3 linked regions of the Homo sapiens genome follow. The protein of the gene in region 3 purifies or fractionates together with the protein of the main gene of each other region. This does not show direct contact. Each region holds a gene or a part of one and is shown on either strand. Other genes may lie near its edges.

Region 1 (7,435 bases), on a different chromosome or scaffold from region 3:
TTGGCTCACTGCAAGCTCCGCCTCCCAGGTTCACACCATTCTCCTGCCTCAGCCTCCCAAGCAGCTGGGACTACAGGCGCCTGCCACCACACCCGGTTAATTTTTTTAGTAGAGATGGGGTTTCAACGTGTTAGCCAGGATGGTCTCGGATCTCCTGACCTTGTGATCCGCCTGCCTCAGCCTCCCAAAGTGTTGGGATTACAGGCGTGAGCCACTGCGCCCAGCCGATATCACTAATTTTTTTTGAAATACGAAGATATTTTGGTTATTAAAAGCAGTGTATATATATGATAAAGTAATGTGTAACAGGAAGCTTTATGAAGAATGTCTTCCAATACACCTTTATAAAGTTCTAAATTCAAAGATTTGTATTCCTCTGGCACGTGAACGATCATTTCAGGCTTTGCTGGGTTATCGTAAAGTCCCTAAGTATGTATACAGAAACAGGACTTAGATCAAAAGGCACGTAACAAGAGCACTGCTTAAAATTGAGTACTCAGGATAGGGTATTAAGATTTAGTGCGGGCTCAGTATGCTTGTAGATCAAAATGGTGTGAGACTTAATGGGAAGGGAACCTGCAAAGATGTGCCCTCTGTGAACCAGGAGGTGTTGGTGGGGTTTCGTCACAGAGAAGAGGGAGCCAGCCTTCCCACTGATGGTATTACAGGTGATCAGGATAGCTTCTGTGCTGAATCGGCCATGCCAATTCCCATTGTAAATGGTTCCCTTCCCAGTTCAAAAGGGGTCACAAATCTTATCAAATGGTAAATTTATTTAATGACTGAATATGATATATAGCAAGCGGCTTCCTGTTTGTGTTATTTACTTTGTCATATTAGTCATGATATGAATAATACCACTGTGTTTCGTGAATTAGGTTCTCAGAGGCACTGTGACTGACTTCCCTGGATTTGATGAGCGGGCTGATGCAGAAACTCTTCGGAAGGCTATGAAAGGCTTGGGTAAATTTAGCTTCCTCTTTCTAAAGCAAATGTGATATTTGTTTTTCCAAACAAGTCATTAATTACAGTAAGAATAATTTTAGAATATTTTGATCTGAAATCTGTAGGAGAAGAGATATGTTAAGATAACAAAATAATACTATAAACCAGAGTGTCCAGTCTTTTGGCTTCTCTGGGCCACATTGGAAGAATTATCTTGGGCCACACATAAAATACACTAACAATAATGATAGCTGATGAGCTAAAAAAAAAAAAAAAGCAAAAAAATTTCATAATGTTTTCAGAAAGTTTATGAGTTTGTGTTAGGCTGCATTCAGAGCTGTCCTGGGCCACATGTGGCTTGCAGGCCATGGGTTGGACAAGCTTGCTATAAACCATCCCTAATATTCAGTCTCTAGAACTGAACAGGCAGTTAAATTCAGCCTCTGTGCTTTTGAGCTTGTCACCCTCACCTGTGTGGTAGAGGCCCGAGTCGATAAGGCAGCCATCCCTGCAGGTGGGCAGCTGTGCAGCTCTGTTCCCAATCAGATATCCCATTCTCATTCTGCTAGACTCTTCTCTTTCCCCAGCCTCTTTTCTAGTCATTTAAAAACCTCTCATCTCAAGGATTTCCATGTGTCACTGATCTCCTGTGCTCAGGCTCCTTTTGTACTACTGTTCATGTGCTTTCTGGCCCTGTAAGTCCTTCCATTGTATCCAGCCCACCTTTTCAGACTCATCTCCCATTACTGTTTAATGTGTTCTCAGACCCAACCATCCTGGCTTATCTGCTGTTTATGAAAGCCCTGTATTTCCCCACTGCTGAGCTTTTCTCTCATTCTAAACGCTGTCCTTCCTTTCGTCACTGCCTTTCACAATCCTTCCATCCTTCAATACTTGTGGGTGTCACCTTCTCCATGAATCATTCTCCAAGATTCCCTTCCACCTCCTATCAGCTAGGAGACCCTTCTTTGAGCCCCATTTAACACCTAGATCTCTCCTGAGGCACTTGTCACATTTTGCCTTAGCTCATACTTATTTGTGTGTTTTTAAAAAACTAGGTGCCCTAAGTTTTTTAAAAGGCAGAAGTATTTTTCCATCTACTTCACAATAGGTTGGGAATGGGGGGTAGAATATATTGGAAACGTAACATTTTATATATTGTAAATTTTTAATAAACTGTTTAATAAAACATTTATATATATGTGTGTATTTGCGTCTGTGTGTGTGTGTGTGTATATATATATGTGTGTGTGTATATATATATATATATACATATTTTTTTTTTTTCTAAGAGATGGGGGTCTCACTATGTTGACCAGGCAGGTCTTGAACTCCTGGCCTCAAGCAATCCTCCCATCTTGGCCTCCCAAAGAGCTAGGATTACAGATGTGAGCCACTGCGCCGGCCATAAAATATATTTTATATTCGCATAGGGAGAGGCAAGGAAATAAGGTGACTGGGAAGCGAGTTGCCAAGATCGTTGGGAGAGTATGCATGTAGGAGCCAAAATGTAATTGTTAACCATAAATTGCAGGCACAGATGAGGAGAGCATCCTGACTCTGTTGACATCCCGAAGTAATGCTCAGCGCCAGGAAATCTCTGCAGCTTTTAAGACTCTGTTTGGCAGGGTAAGACCACACTTCATCCCAAGAGAGAATGGGAGAACAGCTATCAGTTATAAGACTAGTTTGGAATATACTGATATTCTTTTGTAAGCATCATTTATTTTGTGATTCCGACTTCCCTACTTCTGTTTCTTTTCCACTCTCCTCTAAATTATCAGCTCTTAGGATACAGTGCTCACCCAGCTTATCCTCACATAATTGTTTTTCCTTGCCTAATGCTGTAGAGGTGCCAAAAGATCCTGTAGTGAGAACTGTCTCTCTTCTTTTCCTCTGTGTTTCCCACTCAGCATTCACATGGATGTCTTACTATCCATTTTCTAGGTGTAAGCCTGTATTAAAATATGTTTTGTTTTAACACAGTCACAGTCTTGGTTCCTTTTGTCATGATTTTAACTAATGGGTTTTTAATTAGTTGATTTAAATGCTTTTATTTGATTAATAATTCAAAAAAATTTATTTGAATTATTTAAATGAATTATTTGAATTATTTAAATTTAAATGAATTAGTGCATGCATGGAAAACTTAAATGTAGTCTTGTTATTCTGAAAACGTATGTCACTTAACTAAGGAAACAAGTGCAAAGCAAAAAAGAAAGTATTCTAAACACCATTTTTAGTTGTGTGGTATGCTGAAACTTATAGGTAGGAAATACTGTGTTTTTTTTTTCACAATTACATAATTTTTTCATAATTACATACACAATTTCCCCATAGGAACAGATATCTCCCAGTGGTCAGGAGTCATAACAATGACTATAATCTATTATGTGTTTGAATGTTATTACATATTGAGAGAAAAGAAAAAATTATTACGTTTGGGTATGAGAGACTAAATGTTGTCCTTTGTAAATTTCATTATATGATTATTTTTTGAAATTACAAAGAAGATATGTTTCTCAGAATAGTATTTTTATAAAATAGTTTTAGACTACTTTTAAAGGTATTCTTTTTTTTCAAGTTAAGAAAAACATCTTTTAGAAACAAATATCTTGACGTATAAGTGGGTTTGCTTTAGTTTAAGATTTTGGTCACAGGTTAAAAGTATGTTATTCAAGGTTATAGGGTTTTGTTTAGCTCATGGGCCTTCTACTTGGAGACAGCAACATAAAGAATTCATTAGAGCAAAGGACTGTCATTCATATTTAAGAAGAATCTTATTACAATTTCTGCTGGTTAACAAATTTGTATTTTCTGTGGGTTAGGATCTTCTGGATGACCTGAAATCAGAACTAACTGGAAAATTTGAAAAATTAATTGTGGCTCTGATGAAACCCTCTCGGCTTTATGATGCTTATGAACTGAAACATGCCTTGAAGGTAAAAAGGATGAGTGAAAGGAACATTCTTGCATAGATAGTATTATTTTGTTTTGGTAATTACTTCCTCTTATTTGTTATATTTAAAAAATTTTATCTGATTATTTCAGTGAGAGTTGCTTGGCAGACAAAACTGGGAGGCAATAAGCAGTAAAGGAGGGAGAAAATTACACGTGTGTCATTTCATCTTTTTGTAGATTTAAACTCAATAATACTGGGCTGTTTAAAATTTTCATATTTTTATAGCTTTTTGTATTTTATTTTCATGCCTGTCTTCTGATTTTGAGGATGTTTAAAAAATATTACAGATGAGCTATTTTATCTTTTTCAGTAGAAAATTGCCTGATTAGGGAACCATAATATTGCTCATCATTTTAGGTTAAAAGGTAAAGCTTCAGAGAGAATTTTCAAGATAAATATTTTCTCATACTCTTTCCTTCTTTCCTGCCCCTCTAAACACTAAAATGAAGTAGCTGGTAAACTTGCTATAATTTCAGTTGCAGCAAAAATTAAATATGTATTCCCTTGACTGGTGTTTGGAATGTTGTATAAATATGAAGGCATTGACACATTTGTTTAGGCTCATGGGACAGGAAGTAGTTCAGTTGTTAGCTGTTAGATTTTGAATGGGCACATTGAGATTTAACAAGGAAATAATGTTTCTCAGGGATTCTTACTGATGGAGTGGAGAGAGGAGAAGGGTCATCCTGATAGGAGCTGGTTTGTGCTCAGTCTCTTCATTTTCCTATGGTGATTCTTTTGGAATAAACAAAAATCTGAGGTTATTGAGAAAAGCACTTTTTTTGCTAAGTACTTCTGAAATGTCAGCAGTAGTTGAAATTCTGCCAGAGAATGAACTCTAGGTTTTTCAGTGCTTGATTTTTGGCAAAAAATAGAAATATAAAGAAAATAAGGCTTCAATATACTATCTTTTAAAAAAAATTAAGTCCAGCTATATCGTTGCATCTCTTAGTTTAATCATATAGATGTGATTTTTAAAAGCAGAAAAAGGAAAGCCAACTAAAATGATTTTTCAAAAATCCAGAAAGCAAGTCCCAATTCCTTTATACTGTTCTAATTCCTAATAATTAAGTATTGCTATATTTATTGTTACCTTTGATGTAGAATTTTCCTGTGACTGCACAGCACTTAACTTGGGGGTCAGGGGTTTATCTTTTGAGGTGCTTATTAAGTATCAGTGCTCTTCCATGTACATTTACGTGAAGTTTTCATTTTTACTCTTTCGGTTTTTAAAAAATTACTTCATGTTTCATGAAAATGTTTTACTTTTAAGCTAGAATTAACTGATCAAATTAAAAGTTACAAATTTATGTAACTGGTTATGTATACGTACACATATATACACACATACACATGATAAACATTGTTTTCCATTAGGCAAAAAGAATAAAATGGTCTTTGGAGAGAAAATCATTTAAAACTTGTTATTTCTATAACTAATAGAACTCATATACAAAGAAATCCATGTTATACTGGATAATATTTATATAACTATGCAATTTGGGTAACATCTATAACTTTCTTTTAATAACTTTCTTTTTAATCTTATTGACATGTTTTCTCTATTAAAATCTCCAAACAGGGAGCTGGAACAAATGAAAAAGTACTGACAGAAATTATTGCTTCAAGGACACCTGAAGAACTGAGAGCCATCAAACAAGTTTATGAAGAAGGTAAATGTTTGTGAGTTATATTTTGACTTCACCTCCACTATCACTTCCTTCATTTCTGTGATTTGAATGCAGTCCTTTGTAGGTATGGGAGGCACGCAGTAAATGATGGATGAATGAATGAATGAATGAATGACCTGCAATTCAAGCTATTTTTCTCCTTCAGTAAGGAAAAGACTGCCTTGTTATCCTCTACTATTTTCATATTTTATAAGAAGCTACTGCTGAAGATGGAGTTTACTTTTGCATAGGATTTGCAATTAGTGTAGGGATATACAGGTTGTCTTTATGTTAACATTAAGGTAAAAATGGTTTTTCCTCCTTTAAAAATATTTAGCTTTATGCTAGCAAAATTTAGGAGTTATATAAAAAGTACTTTTGGAACTTTGGAAGAGAAACCTAAACCCTTTCCCACATCAGAGTTGATAAAGTACATTTGAGTAAATGTATGTTGTCTTAGCTAATGGCAGTGCTTGAATAAAATATTCTGCATTTTGATTTTTCTTTTTAGTGTGTCTTTTATATGAACAGAAATCTGCATTTCGGCCTAAAATATGTCTCATGAATAGAATCAAGAAAATGAAGTAAAAAGTAGAGGTAGAGAGTCCTTTTCTTACCAGATTTCTTGTAGCCAACTCTTTCTCCTGCCTGACTGAGGAGGGTCAGACTATCCAGTTTCTCAGCTCAGTCAACAGACTCCAAGCCTAGTGTCTTTTGCTAGGGGCTGTATCTTGCCATTAGTTTGTTAATCTTAGAAATGGCTTTGTTAACCCAGCAAGTCAAAACAGCAAAAAATTGTTTAGAGCAACTGTATAATTACCTTTCTAAAGGGCTGAATCTCTCTTTCCTGCTTCTCTTTTTATAGGCAGTAAGTTCCCAACCGCTAAGGCAGAAGTGATACATGTATCTCAACTTTGAACTTTATTTGATGTACTATTCAAAGATCTCTTTCTGGGGATGTTGACGTTGATGAGAGCCTTTGTGCTACTGGATTACAAATGGTGTGCTCAAAGGGGGTAATAACTGTGTGGTCTGTCCTACTCAGCCGTGTAATTGAGCACTGGCTATGTGTCTGGCAGTGTGTTAACAGGCTGTCATGAGTGACAAAAGGTGTGCATAACACAGCTCCTGTCCTCAAGCAGTTTGTGTGCAGTCTCCTCAGTGGGTGACATGACAGAATGACTGCAATATTTAAAGGATAATGAAATTCAAACTAAAGTAAAATACCAATGATGTTAAATGCAATAATGCATTCAGAAGAGAGAGGTCATCATAGCTTTGGATGTTAGGGAGGCTTCATGGTACAAATCACACATGCAGCAGAGTTTCAAGACTAGGTGGGTTTACAAAGTGTCCATTGACAGATGAATAGATAAAGAATACGTACACACACACACACAAACACAGACACACACACACAGGAGTACTGTTCAGTCTTAAAGAGGGGAAATCCTGTCATTTCAACATCATGGATAAACGTGGAGGACATAATGCAAAGTGAAATAAGCTAGGCACAAGGCATAAGCTATGCATGATCTCACTTCTTATGTTGAATCTAAAAAAATTGAACTCATAGAAACAGATAGTAAAACAGTGTTTGCTAGGGTGTAGGGGTGGGGTGAATGGGAGAAGGGACTGGTGAAATATTGGTCAAAGCATACACGATTTTAGTTAGGCAGGATGAATAAGTTCTGGGGATCTCATGAACAGCGTGGTGACTATAGTGAAAGTATAACTATTATATGCTTGAAATTTGTGAATACAGTATATTTTAAATGTCCTCACCACACACAAAAATATAGACTATATGAAGTGATGGATATGCTGATTAACTTGATTGTGGTAATCATTTCACAAC
Region 2 (4,829 bases), on a different chromosome or scaffold from region 3:
AGACATTGTTAATATTCTTCATTCATTGCATGGGCATTAAGAAAGGATGTAAGACTGATCTATCCAATAGTTTATTTCTCCATGGCAAACATGGCTCTAAACAATAATGACTTTCATACTTTTGTCCACACATAAAATTTATGAGAACAAAGTAAGCTGGTAAAAAAAACAAACAAAATAGTTTGGTCTACTACATATTTATACACTGAAAGGAAAATTAATGGTGGCAATTGAGCCTCACTTAATGGAATGAGTTATACTGGAGTATCTCCCTTTGCGTTACGCAGACTGACATCACAGTTCAACCTGTCAGACATCTGAGATACATTCCTGGGGTTCTGGTTTGTGTATAACTTTTATGGATTCAATAATCTCCTAACACAGAAATGGGTATCTGATAAAGTTGAGTGGAACTGGAATAATCCTGGAATGACCCAAATTATCAAATTTTAGAGGCATACCTAAGACACTAAGACTAGTGTCTTTGTAAAAAAAAAAAATGTTTGAGGAATAAAATTGAGTAAAATGAGAGATACACACAGATCTTACAGCTTACAAAACATAATTTTATTTAAATTTGTATAGATAAAAATCTACCAAAATTTAAACAAAAATTTTATCCAAATCCTTTCCCACAACAAAATTGGACATCATGGAAAAAAAAAACACATTCAAATAAGGTTCCCATCTTTCTACCATAAACTGGTAGATTCTGGGAGGATGAGGAGTAAGAGAGAAACGAGGAGAGAAGATAGTGATACTAAACACAATTTGATCTTCAGTGTTGTCTCATCTTGAAATATCTTAATAACAGAGATTTCCATAAGAATCAGGATTCATTTTTGACACAAAAATGGAAGCTTCCACTCCCAAAATCACAAATAAGGCTTCTGGTTTTCTTTTTAGTGTGAGGTAAACAGTATATTCAATATTAAGGCAAATGGTAAAAACACATGGATGGTATATTAATGCAGATATTCCATTATTAAATATATTTTGGAATACTCACGGATTTTTCAAACATATGTTAGAATTAGAAACCTGTAAAATCTGCAGTAGTGTGTAATAGCTATTTGCTTGAATGTCTTAGCAGTGCCTTTTTAGTAGCTAATATGTTCAGTGTAATCTTATGCCTTTTTAGTAATTAATATATTAAATATAATCTTGTCTGAGTTTTTAAATGGTCTGTTTTTCTTTTTCATTATGTAGGATTAGATGCCCACCAAAATTCTTGTAAATGAAGCAGGACTTGATTTCAAATTCTGTCTATACACACAATATTTGGCCACATAGACCACTCCCCAAAGTCTGCAAAACACTGCCTACTGGGCAGGCTTACAGTGACAGAAAAGTATGAGAACACAAGATATTATTTTTATAAAGACCAAAATCAGATTTAGGCTGTCTAGATATCTTATTCCAGAAAACACAGATTTAAGATTTTTCAGTGATTCTTGCCTTCCCCCTCCCCTTTTCTTCCCCAATGAGATAACCATTTCTTTCACAATGATGAACCATCCCTTTTTACGGAAAAATGGCTTTCTTTCTCCATTGGATCAGGACAAAGACATCACTTCTTGGCCACACTGGCCACAGCCTTCTTGGCTGCATCCTCCAGGTCAATGGCTGAAGTAATGGGGAGTCCGCTGTTGTTGAGTATCTTCTGGGCCTCTTGGACGTTGGTTCCTAGAAGGGGGACAGGGAACAATCACTGAATGAAACTAGAGGTGGCGCCTTATGAAGTTTGCACAAGGACACACAAGACTCACCTGTCTACAGCTTTTCACTAGGAAATGAATTAAATATAGGTTCTCATCAAGGTCACTGACAGAAAAGATTATGTGATGAAATTTATCTCAAGCTGTGGTCCAGCTAGAAAAGAAGATGAAAGCAAGGGCTTGCAAGAGGGAAATGAACATATTTTACTGATGGAAGCTGAGTTGTCTGCTGATAATCACAGCCATGTGGATTTAATGCGGTTTTGGCCCACACCAGAAGTCACTTGTCTTAAAGCCCTCTCAGACGTCATCAGGGGTTTGGGCTGTGACCTGATTTGAGAAAGGAAGTTCCGAGAATCTGCCCAGCTATGTCCACAAATCCACTGCTTTGGAGACTCTGGCGCATCCAGCATGTCCATTTCTGCCTTCTCCTCACTCTATAAAATGAAATGGGCTGAGCCCTTCAAAACGGGCAAAGCAGCCTCTGATGGCAATCTCTTGACTGTTCCTGGTGGATCTGGAGTATCTTCTGGCCAAGTCACTTCATTCAAAGGTGTGCTTGGGGACTATTTAACATGAGAACTGCTTTTCTGCCATTTTAGAGTGAACAACTCCTGTAGGAGAAATGTAATAGAATTTAAGTGTCTAATGAAATATCTCATCCTACATCATTTCCTGTGCTTTTATCTAGTTGGCAAGACAGAGCCTATTTATAAACAAAGACCTTGAAATATAGGCCTTGGAGAACTTGCCTTACCACAAAGAGTGCAGATAAAAAGAGGCACTGGGTCAGCACATTTCATATAAAGAGGCAAATGCTGGATTAAATAGAAATGGGTGGATTGAAAAGATGATGCAGCACTGATTCCCCTGGGACCCTGGGTCTACCCAAGCAGCAGTGAAGATGGCCGCTTGGCACTGTGTCTTCACCTTAAGGCTCACCTACTCCTGTTTTTACAGAGGAAGCTGGTGAAAGTCCTCTCTGGAAGGTGAAAGCATAAAATGTGGGAAGCTGCTACCTAAAATCTCCATGCTGGCTCTGCCATGTACTTGTTATGTAGTTTTGGGTAAATCGTTTAACTTCTTTGAGCCTTAACTTTTGTTTCCATACAGAGCACTATCATCCTCGTAATCTTCCCAAGAACTAATATCATTAAGTGCTTATGTATGCCAGGCACAGTGCTAAGTAACTTATACACAGCATATGAAATCTTTACAAAAACTATGAGTAGTCCTATTGTTCCTATTTTACAGATAAGGCAACTGAGGCACAGAGAAGTTAAATAACTTTTCCATGGTCACAGAGGCGGTAAGTGTCAGAGATGGGACTTGAACTGTTCTCTGTAATTATAAACGCTGCATGTTCTAAAGATATGCTAGTCTGCTTACCTACTTGAAAAATGAGGACAGTATAGCTGATGGTATAGATTGTGATGAGAAGCAAATGAAATGAGTGTAAAAGCATTTTTGTAAATGGTGCAGTATCTGTGGCAGGCCTGGCTGGCTTTGCACCACAGACTCCTGCTCCTCTTCTGCAGTAGAGTGCTATTGCTGGAAAGCAGCTGCCCAGCCAGAAACTACATTTCCCAGGCCCCCCTGCATCTCGAAGGGGACATGTGACTGAGTTCAGGCCAAAGGAATGTCACATGGCCATGACAATCTCCAAAGGGACTCTTCACACTCGGTTTTCCTTGTCTGCTTTCTGGAGTGTTCCTAGCTGGGGCAGCCCTGGAAGTCACCTTTTTGGTTCTGGTTGTGTTTTGTCTTGCTTTTTGTTTTTGAGATAGGCTCTCGCTGTGTCACCCAAGATGGAGTGCAGTGGTGTGATCTCAGCTCACTGCAGCCTCAGCCTCCGGTGCCCAAGTGATCCTTCTACCTCAGCCTCCCAAGTAGCTGAGACTAAAGGCACACATCACCACGCCCAGCTATTTTTTGTATTTTTTGTAGAGATGGGGTTTTTCCACATTGCCCAGGCTGGTCCTGAACTCCTAAACTCAAGGACTCCATCTGCCGTGGCCTCCCAAAATGCTGGGATTACAGGCATGAGCCCTTGCACCCAGCCAAATCACTTCTTGAAGATGGCAATGACTCCTTCAGCCTGGATACTTTAATAACTCTCTGGAGCCAAGCATCTTACCCACTCACCCTCTTAGACCTTATGGGAATGAGAAAGACCCTTCTATAATGTTAAGACTCTGAAATTTCTGCATTTTTCTGTTGTTACAGGAGCTAGCATTATTTTGACTAACATATGACTTTGTAAATGCTGTGGAAGGCAGCTTCTAAAATGGTTTTCAAAGATCAATCACTCTTGCCTCCTGGTAGTCACATCTTTGTAGAATCCGTCCCCCTTGAGTATGATCTGGACCCACAGCCTTACTTCTAATAGATAAGAACATGGCAAAAGTGATGGAGTGTCACTTCTGAGACTAGGTTACAAAAGCCTGTGGCTTCAGTCTTGCTCCCTTTAACTCTTTTTTCACTCTGATGAAGCAAACTACCCTGCTATGAGCTGCCCTCTGGAGAGACTCACCTGGGCAAGGAACTGAGGGCAAACTCTGGCCAACGGCTGATGAGGAACTGAGGCTCTGGGTCTAATAGCCAAGGAGGAAGTGCATCTGGCCAAGAACCATATAAGGGATCTTGGAAGCAAATTCTTCCCTAGTCAAGCCTTGAGATCACTACAGCTCGGCTGACACTGTGATTGCAGCCTTGTGAGAGACCCTGAGTGAGAGGATCCACCTAAGCCACACCCAGATTCCTGACCACAGAAACTGTGAGATAATAACTGTTCTTTTTGTTAAGCTGCTACATTTTGGGGTAATTTGTTAAGTGCTGATAGGTAAGTAACACAGATGTAAAAATGTATTATTTCATTAACACAACCTGCGTGCACTTTGATTCATTTGACTGTGGCAGGTGTTAGATAGCAGGCTAAGGAATTTAGAAACTAATCAAAGCATGGCTTTCATGGAGTAATGACAGAGTGTGAAACAAAAGCCCTGATGGACACAGGAGCAAACCAGTCTTTGGACCAGAAGGTAAATGACAGTTACACGTGTAAATTTTGTTTTAGACAGAGTCTTGCTCTGTCACCCAGGCTGGAGTGCA
Region 3 (7,435 bases):
GCTTCGCTCCAATGTTATCTTGAACTTCCGTGATAAGTCATTCCACAGCTCTTTCAAAATAAGTACTTGGAATTTTTGTTGAGTGTATAATTATTTGTGCATCTTGAAATCTGCTTATTCTCTTCTTTCTTTTTAAAAAAATCATTCTCACTGTCATCTTATGCTTCTTCTCTTCTTAGATATCAATGATGTCAAACGGCTGAAACCTGGCTACTTAGAAGCTACTGTGGACTGGTTTAGAAGGTATAAGGTTCCTGATGGAAAACCAGAAAATGAGTTTGCGTTTAATGCAGAATTTAAAGATAAGGTAATATGTCATTCAGAACTGTAGCTTTAGGCTCATTTGTATTGAGACTCATAATTTAACCATATTGTTACCATCTAAAGATTCACAAAACAGAAGTCTGGAAACATAACACAGTCTTGGTGTTTATTTATTCACTTTAATATTCTCTTCCATTTTTAGAATAAGGAAATGATTCAGAAGAGACAAAGTATCAGGCTTTGGGGAAATGTTGATAATAGGAAAATAATACCTTTTTATCATTGTAATGCAAACCTCTTCAAATTATAGGACTTTGCCATTGATATTATTAAAAGCACTCATGACCATTGGAAAGCATTAGTGACTAAGAAAACGAATGGAAAAGGAATCAGTTGGTAAGTGTAAACACTTTGCATGTTTAACACACAAAGCAGACCAGCTTGCAGAAAAGGTTTTAATAATCATAAGACACTGTACTGTTACTTTCACTTAGAAAAGAGATACAAGGCTGGGTGCGGTGGCTCACACCTGTCATTCCAGCACTTTGGGAAGCCAAGGTGGATGGATTGCTTGAGCCCAGGAGTTGAAGACCAGCCTGGACAACATGGAAAAACCCTGTCTCTACAAAAAGTACAAAAATTAGCTGGGCATGGTGGTACATACCTGTAGTCCTAGCTACCTGGGAGGCTGAGTTGGGAGGATCACCTGAGCCTGGGGAGGTTGAAGCTGCAGTGAGCCGTGATCGTACCACTGTACTCCAGCCTGGGCGACAGAGCGAGACTCGGTCTCAAAAAAAAAAAAAAAAGAGTACGAGAAACAGCCAATGTACAAAAATAATTCTCCCAGAAATCTTCTATTCTGTGTCAGGATAATGTCCTATAAAATGAAAACATTGTCCTTCCAACAAACAGAAGAAAAATGGAGAAGAGTTATATGTGTAAAAATGTACAGTCCTAAGAGTTGGCATTTGTCTGGGTGCTATATGGCTCATTCCTGTAATTCCAGCACTTTAGGAGGCTGAGGCAGGAGGATCACTTGAACTCAGGAATTGGAGACTGGTGGGGGCAACATAGTGAGACCTCATCTCTACTAAAAATTAAAAAAAAATTAGCCAGGCATGGTGGCGCTTGCCTGTAGCAAGGCTGAGGTGGGAAGATCACTTGAGCCTTGGAGATCAAGGCTGCAGTGAGCTGTGATTGCCCCACTGCACTCCAACTGGGGCACCTGAGCAAGACCCTGTCTCAAAAGAAAAAAAAAAGGAAAAAGATTTGGCTTTTAAGTTAACTTCTCTATTTTTTCGTATCTTACGATTTCTATGAAAATGGTCTTAATGTATGTTAAATAACAGGTCAGCAAAGATGATTCATTTTTCATTTTGATGGTGTATTTCTTTGTTGTTGTTGTTTTCTGAGACAGAGTCTTGCTCTTGTTGCCCAGGCTGGAGTGCAATGGCATGATCTCGGCTCATTGCAACCTCCGCTTCCCGGATTCAAGAGATTCTCCTGCCTCAGCCTCCTGAGTAGCTGGGATTACAGGCGCATGCCACCACGCCCGGCTAATTTTTGTATTTTTAGTAGAGACGGGGTTTTGCCGTGTTAACCAGGCTGGTCTCGAACCTCTGACTCATGATCTGCCCGCCTCGGCCTCCCAAAGTGGTGGGATTACAGGCGTGAGCCACCACACCCGGCCTTGATGGAATATTTCTAATTGGGCACATATTATATTAGTACTATAATGACTAATATATAGGAAAACTTGAACTACGGATAAACAAAAATAAAATGTATTTTTAAAACATGATCCATATTTTAGACTAAAGTGGGCTAAAAAAACCCAAAAAACATATTAGGATTGTATTATATACACGACTTGTCTTACGATTTTTAAAATTTAACACTATGTAATAAGCATTTCCTCATGTCATAAAAGATATAATTTTTTTTTTAGAGACAGGGTCTCTCGCCCAGGCTGAAGTGCAGTGTTACTATAATAGCTCACTGTAACCTCAAAGAAGTGATCCTTCTGTCTCAGCCTGCCAAGTAGCTGGGTACTACAGGCACGCATCACCACTCCCAGATGATTTTTAAATTTGTTGTAGAGACAGTGTCTTGCTGTGTTGTCCAGGCTGATCTTGACCCCCTGGCTTTAAGTGATCCTCTCACACCTCAGCCTCCAAAAGTGCTTAGACTACAGATGCGAGCCACCATGCCTAGTCTAGAAATATCATATTTTAATAATATAATATTCCATCTCTGTATAATATGTTTTATGGATAAACCTTTTTATTTTTAAATCCCTGCAAAGAAGGATAAACTATTTTTAATCATTTCTTATTATTGGACATTTTGGTTACTTCCAATTTTTCACCACTATTAATAGTGAAATAGTATATGGTAAACACCTTTGTAAATTACCGTTTCAGTATTGGATTGGGTTCTTAGAGGTGGAATTTCTCTATCAAGACCTATGAGCTTTTTAAAAGGTTTTGGATACATTTTACAGAAATATTTTTCAGAAAGATTGAACCAGGACTCCTGCCAGAAGTGTCTGTTTCAGATGTCTCACCAACACTACAGGAACTGGGTTTTTTTTTGTTTCATTATTTTTTCCAATTAAGAAAGATATGTTTCTCAATTCACATTTCTTAGCTATTTCAGTGAGAATTACAAAGCATTCAATCTCAGTTTCTTTCGTCCTCTCCTCCCCTCCCCTCCCCTCCCCTCCCCTCCCCTCCTCTCCTCTCCTCTCCTCCTTATTGCAACGCAGTCTTGCTCTGTCACCAGGCTGGAGTGCAGTGGCGCGATCTCAGCTGACTGAAATCTCCGCCTTCCAGATTCAAGCGATTCTCCTGCCTCAGCCTCCCGAGTAGCTGGGACTACAGGCATGCGCCACCATGCCCGGCTAATTTTTGTATTTTTAGTAGAGATGGGGTTTCACCGTGTTGGCCAGGATGGTCTCGATCTCTTGACCTCATGATCCGCCTGCCTCAGCCTCCCAAAGTGCTGGAATTACAGGCATGAGCCACCACACCTAGCCCAATCTCAGTTTCTTAAATCCGAACTTGTTAAGATATTTGAATAAAATTGATCACAAGAATAGCTATGCCTTGCCAAAATACATAATTAGAATGTTAAATGTAGGTGAAAAAGCTTTCGACTAAACTAAACTTGAATATCACCTGGTCAACCACTTTCAACTCATTTTTTAACTCTTAAGAGATAATTTTTGTTATTTTGTCTTATGACTACTTTTGTTTTATTTAATAGCATGAATACAACTTTGTCTGAGAGCCCCTTCAAGTGTGATCCTGATGCTGCCAGAGCCATTGTGGATGCTGTATGTAAAAGTTTCCTTAAAAAAAAAACAAGCCTGGTTGCTAAAAACTATGATGCTAAATGGGGAGAGGAAGTACTTGTTTCGACAAATACTTGAGTGCCTTTTGTATGCATGTTACTGTGTGGAGTCTTGAAATTAGAAACCATGAACACATGCAAGTGGCCATTTGACTGAGGGAGAAGCTGAGGGAGTGATTCTAATCAATCATAAGTTGGACAGATAGCATGGTAGTAAGATTTGTAAAAATCAGAATGGTTCCAGAATGTACCAAGTAACCTGTGTGCCTATGACCCATCATAAGCCATTTCCGCAAAAGAATCAATGGGAATTTACTTGACTTGGTTCTAGCAAGGACTGAGGAAGGTATCAAGTTTTAGGTACCATTGCAGGAATGATTCATAATCTAAGAAAGGCTTTCATGTGAGGTAGTAAAAGCACCCGTCAAAGCAATAATTTTGTTTTTGTACTATTTTTAATTATTTGGTTTGGATTAACCAAAAAATTGAACGAGATCATCTTAAATTATTTTCATTTATAATATTAAATAAGGAAAACAAAAGAAAATGAGGTCTGACTTTTTTACTGCCTTGTAAATGGGGTAGAACAAGGAAAAAAGGACAATTTAATGATGAAACCAGTACATTTAGTTTTATCTTTATTTATGTATGAATCCCGACAAAGTTGAGATAAATAAGAAAAATTATAAGGGAAAAGCCAGTGGTTAACTATTATAATTTTTCAGTGAGAACACTGCCCATATTTTATAAATATGTGTGTATATATAAAATTGTTATATATGCATAAATCAGTTTTTATTATTTCAAAAAACATTCTTATTATTCTGCATGTCATAAAAAGTCAAGAGGCTTGAATTTTTTTTTTTTTTTTTGAGACAAGTCTCGCTCTGTTGCCCAGACTGGAGTGCAGTGGCGCAATCTCAGCTTACTGCAACCTCCGCCTCCCAGGTTCAAGCGGTTCTCTGCCTCAGCCTCCCGAGCAGCTGGGATTACAGGTGCCCGCCACCATGCCCAGCTTTTATTTTTAGTAGAGACGGGGTTTCACCATCTTGGCCAGGCTGGTCTTGAACTCCTGACCTTGTGATCCACCCACTTCAGCCTCCCGAAGTGTTGGGATTATGGGCATGAGCCACTGCACTGTCCAAGAGGCTTGAATTTGTTAGCATCTCAGCAGTAGAGCAAACCTTCTATTGTTCCTATATATTATAAATTACGTTTAGATCCTAAAATTTGGGATAGTCTTCAGATTCTCTTAAATTTTTGTCAGTATACCTTTTTAGCTTTTTAAAAAATGAGATTAGACTAATAGATTTTAATATTTTATATTTTAGTTACCACCACCCTGTGAATCTGCCTGCACAGTACCAACAGACGGTAAGATTTCTATTCCAGTAAAATTTCATTAAACATTACACAGTTATGGAAAAATTATGTTACTTTTATTTTTAGTTGACAAATGATAATTAAATATATTTATGGGTACAGTGTGATGTTTTGATATATGTTTACAATGTGGAATGATTAAATCTGGCTAATTACGAAATCATTACCTCACATACTTAATCATTATTTGTTGTGTGGTAAAAACATTTGAAATCTACTCTTAGCAATTTTGAAATAGATGTTACAGTCACCATCCTGTGCAATAGATCACTAAAGCTTATTCCTTTTGTCTAACTAAAACTTGGTACCCTTTGACCATCGCCTGCCCTTTCCCCATCCTTCAGCTCCTGGCAACCACCATTCTACTCTCTACCTCTATGAATTTACCTTTTTTATATTGCACATATAAATGAGATCATGTGGTATTTGTCTTTCTGTACCTGGCTTGTTTTTTGTTTTTTGACACAGAGTCACCCAGGCTGTCACTCTGTCACCCAGGCTGGAGTGCAGGGGCACAATCACAGCTCATTGTACCCGTAACCCCCCCAAGTTAAAGTGATTCTCCCATCTCAGCCTCCCAAATAGCTGGGACTGCAGACATGTGCCACCATACCTGTCTAATTTTTTTATAATTTGTAGAGATAGAGTTTCACCATGTTGCCCAAGCTGGTCTCAAACCAGGTCTCGAACCAGGCTGGTCTTGAACACTAATCAGGCCGGGTTTCGCCATGTCACCCAGGCTGGCGATCCACCTACCTTGTCCTCCCAAAGTGCTAGGATTACAGGCGTGAGCCACTGCACGCAGCCACGTACATATTTTTAACATACACAGGAAGAGAGGGAAGAAGGGTGAGAAGAGAAGCATTTTTAGAATTCTGTAGTGTACGTGGGAAGGAAGATGAGCTGCTACATACCACCTTTAGTGCCACACTGTATCACAGTGGTTTCCAAACCATGACCCATTGTGCCCCTCTGAGTTCCATGGAGGTGCCCGCTGGACACTGGAGGGGACCCTGAGTGGGCTGATCTCCACATTCCCACCTGGCCACAGGCTGCTTCACCCAGAAAACAGTTCTCTCCTCCTTAGATGTCAGAATTCTCTGTAAGATTTTTCTGGTAAGAAAATGATTCTGCCACTTAAAAAAACAAGTTTGAAGGCTGGGTGTGGTGGCTCACACCTGTCATCCCAGCACTTTGGGAGGCTGAGGCGGGCGGATCACTTGAGCCCAGGAGTTCGAGACCAGCCTGGCCAACATGGAGAAACCATGTCTCTACAAAAAAAAAATACAAAAATTTGCTAGATGTGGTGGCACACGTCTGTAATACCAGCTGCTGGGGAGACTGAGGCACGAGAATTGCTTGAACCTGGAAGATGGAGGTTGCAGTGAGCCATGATTGCTGCCACTGCACTGCAATCTGGGCAAGAGAGTGAGACCCTGTCTCGAAATTAAAAAAAAAAGTTTGAAAATCACACTATGCAATTAGCATGAAGTGTAAGGAAGCCCAAAAGAAAACACCTGCATTTGCTGTAGAGAAATTTTGTATGTATGCCTGTTAATTTTCAGGTAATTCATAGTAGGATTCATTAAAGCAAGTATATTAGTCTTTGTTATATGTTAGGTGTATTTTTGATTCTCAACAGGAATTCTAATTTGTTTTTCTTTTCTCTGAATACAGTGGATAAGTGGTTCCATCACCAGAAAAACTAATGAGATTTCTCTGGAATACAAGCTGATATTGCTACATCGTGTTCATCTGGATGTATTAGAAGTAAAAGTAGTAGCTTTTCAAAGCTTTAAATTTGTAGAACTCATCTAACTAAAGTAAATTCTGCTGTGACTAATCCAATATACTCAGAATGTTATCCATCTAAAGCATTTTTCATATCTCAACTAAGATAACTTTTAGCACATGCTTAAATATCAAAGCAGTTGTCATTTGGAAGTCACTTGTGAATAGATGTGCAAGGGGAGCACATATTGGATGTATATGTTACCATATGTTAGGAAATAAAATTATTTTGCTGAAACTTGGCTTAGGATATTTTTATTTTAATCTGAAGCCAACATTAAGTAGGTATGGGTATTTTTTGGTGTTTGTTTTCTGTTGATAGTCTTATAATTCAAATTTATAATTATTAGACGAAGAAATCGCTTATATTTATAGTACTCTTGATACTATGCTCTAGTACATAAGTCCTAGCATACCATTCTAAAGCAAAAGTTTTTAAATTTATATCATATTAGCAGAAAGCACAATGTTGCTCACCCTTTGAAGTTATATATTAATAGTTATTTTTTTACTTCTTCAGTCAACTAATTGGACGCTTAAGTCATTTATATTATATTCTAAGTTATCAGCTGAACAAACCAGTTTGAATGCCAGCCCATCTTCTTACTAGCTCTGTAATCTTAAGTCAGTTTACCAACCACTC

What was found.
Region 1: the proteins of PPA1 (region 3) and ANXA5 purify together in Homo sapiens (affinity purification with mass spectrometry; 2 studies listed by BioGRID, with this or other methods). This does not show direct contact.
Region 2: the proteins of PPA1 (region 3) and SUCLG2 purify together in Homo sapiens (affinity purification with mass spectrometry; 2 studies listed by BioGRID, with this or other methods). This does not show direct contact.

What each region holds. Positions count from the first base shown.
Region 1 is NC_000004.12:121,679,816-121,687,250, reverse strand, and holds part of ANXA5 (annexin A5), read left to right. Parts: intron 1-878; coding exon 879-963; intron 964-2,479; coding exon 2,480-2,574; intron 2,575-3,773; coding exon 3,774-3,887; intron 3,888-5,489; coding exon 5,490-5,580; intron 5,581-6,442; coding exon of another isoform or gene 6,443-6,495; exon of another isoform or gene 6,496-7,435. UniProt on the Homo sapiens protein: This protein is an anticoagulant protein that acts as an indirect inhibitor of the thromboplastin-specific complex, which is involved in the blood coagulation cascade.
Region 2 is NC_000003.12:67,374,174-67,379,002, forward strand, and holds the end of SUCLG2 (succinate--CoA ligase [GDP-forming] subunit beta, mitochondrial isoform 2 precursor), read right to left. Parts: intron 2,333-4,829; coding exon of another isoform or gene 2,289-2,332; exon of another isoform or gene 1,687-2,288; coding exon 1,571-1,686; 3' UTR 546-1,570; downstream 1-545. UniProt on the Homo sapiens protein: GTP-specific succinyl-CoA synthetase functions in the citric acid cycle (TCA), coupling the hydrolysis of succinyl-CoA to the synthesis of GTP and thus represents the only step of substrate-level phosphorylation in the TCA.
Region 3 is NC_000010.11:70,202,430-70,209,864, reverse strand, and holds the end of PPA1 (inorganic pyrophosphatase), read left to right. Parts: intron 1-179; coding exon 180-307; intron 308-574; coding exon 575-660; intron 661-3,531; coding exon 3,532-3,601; intron 3,602-4,949; coding exon 4,950-4,992; intron 4,993-6,678; coding exon 6,679-6,710; 3' UTR 6,711-7,030; downstream 7,031-7,435.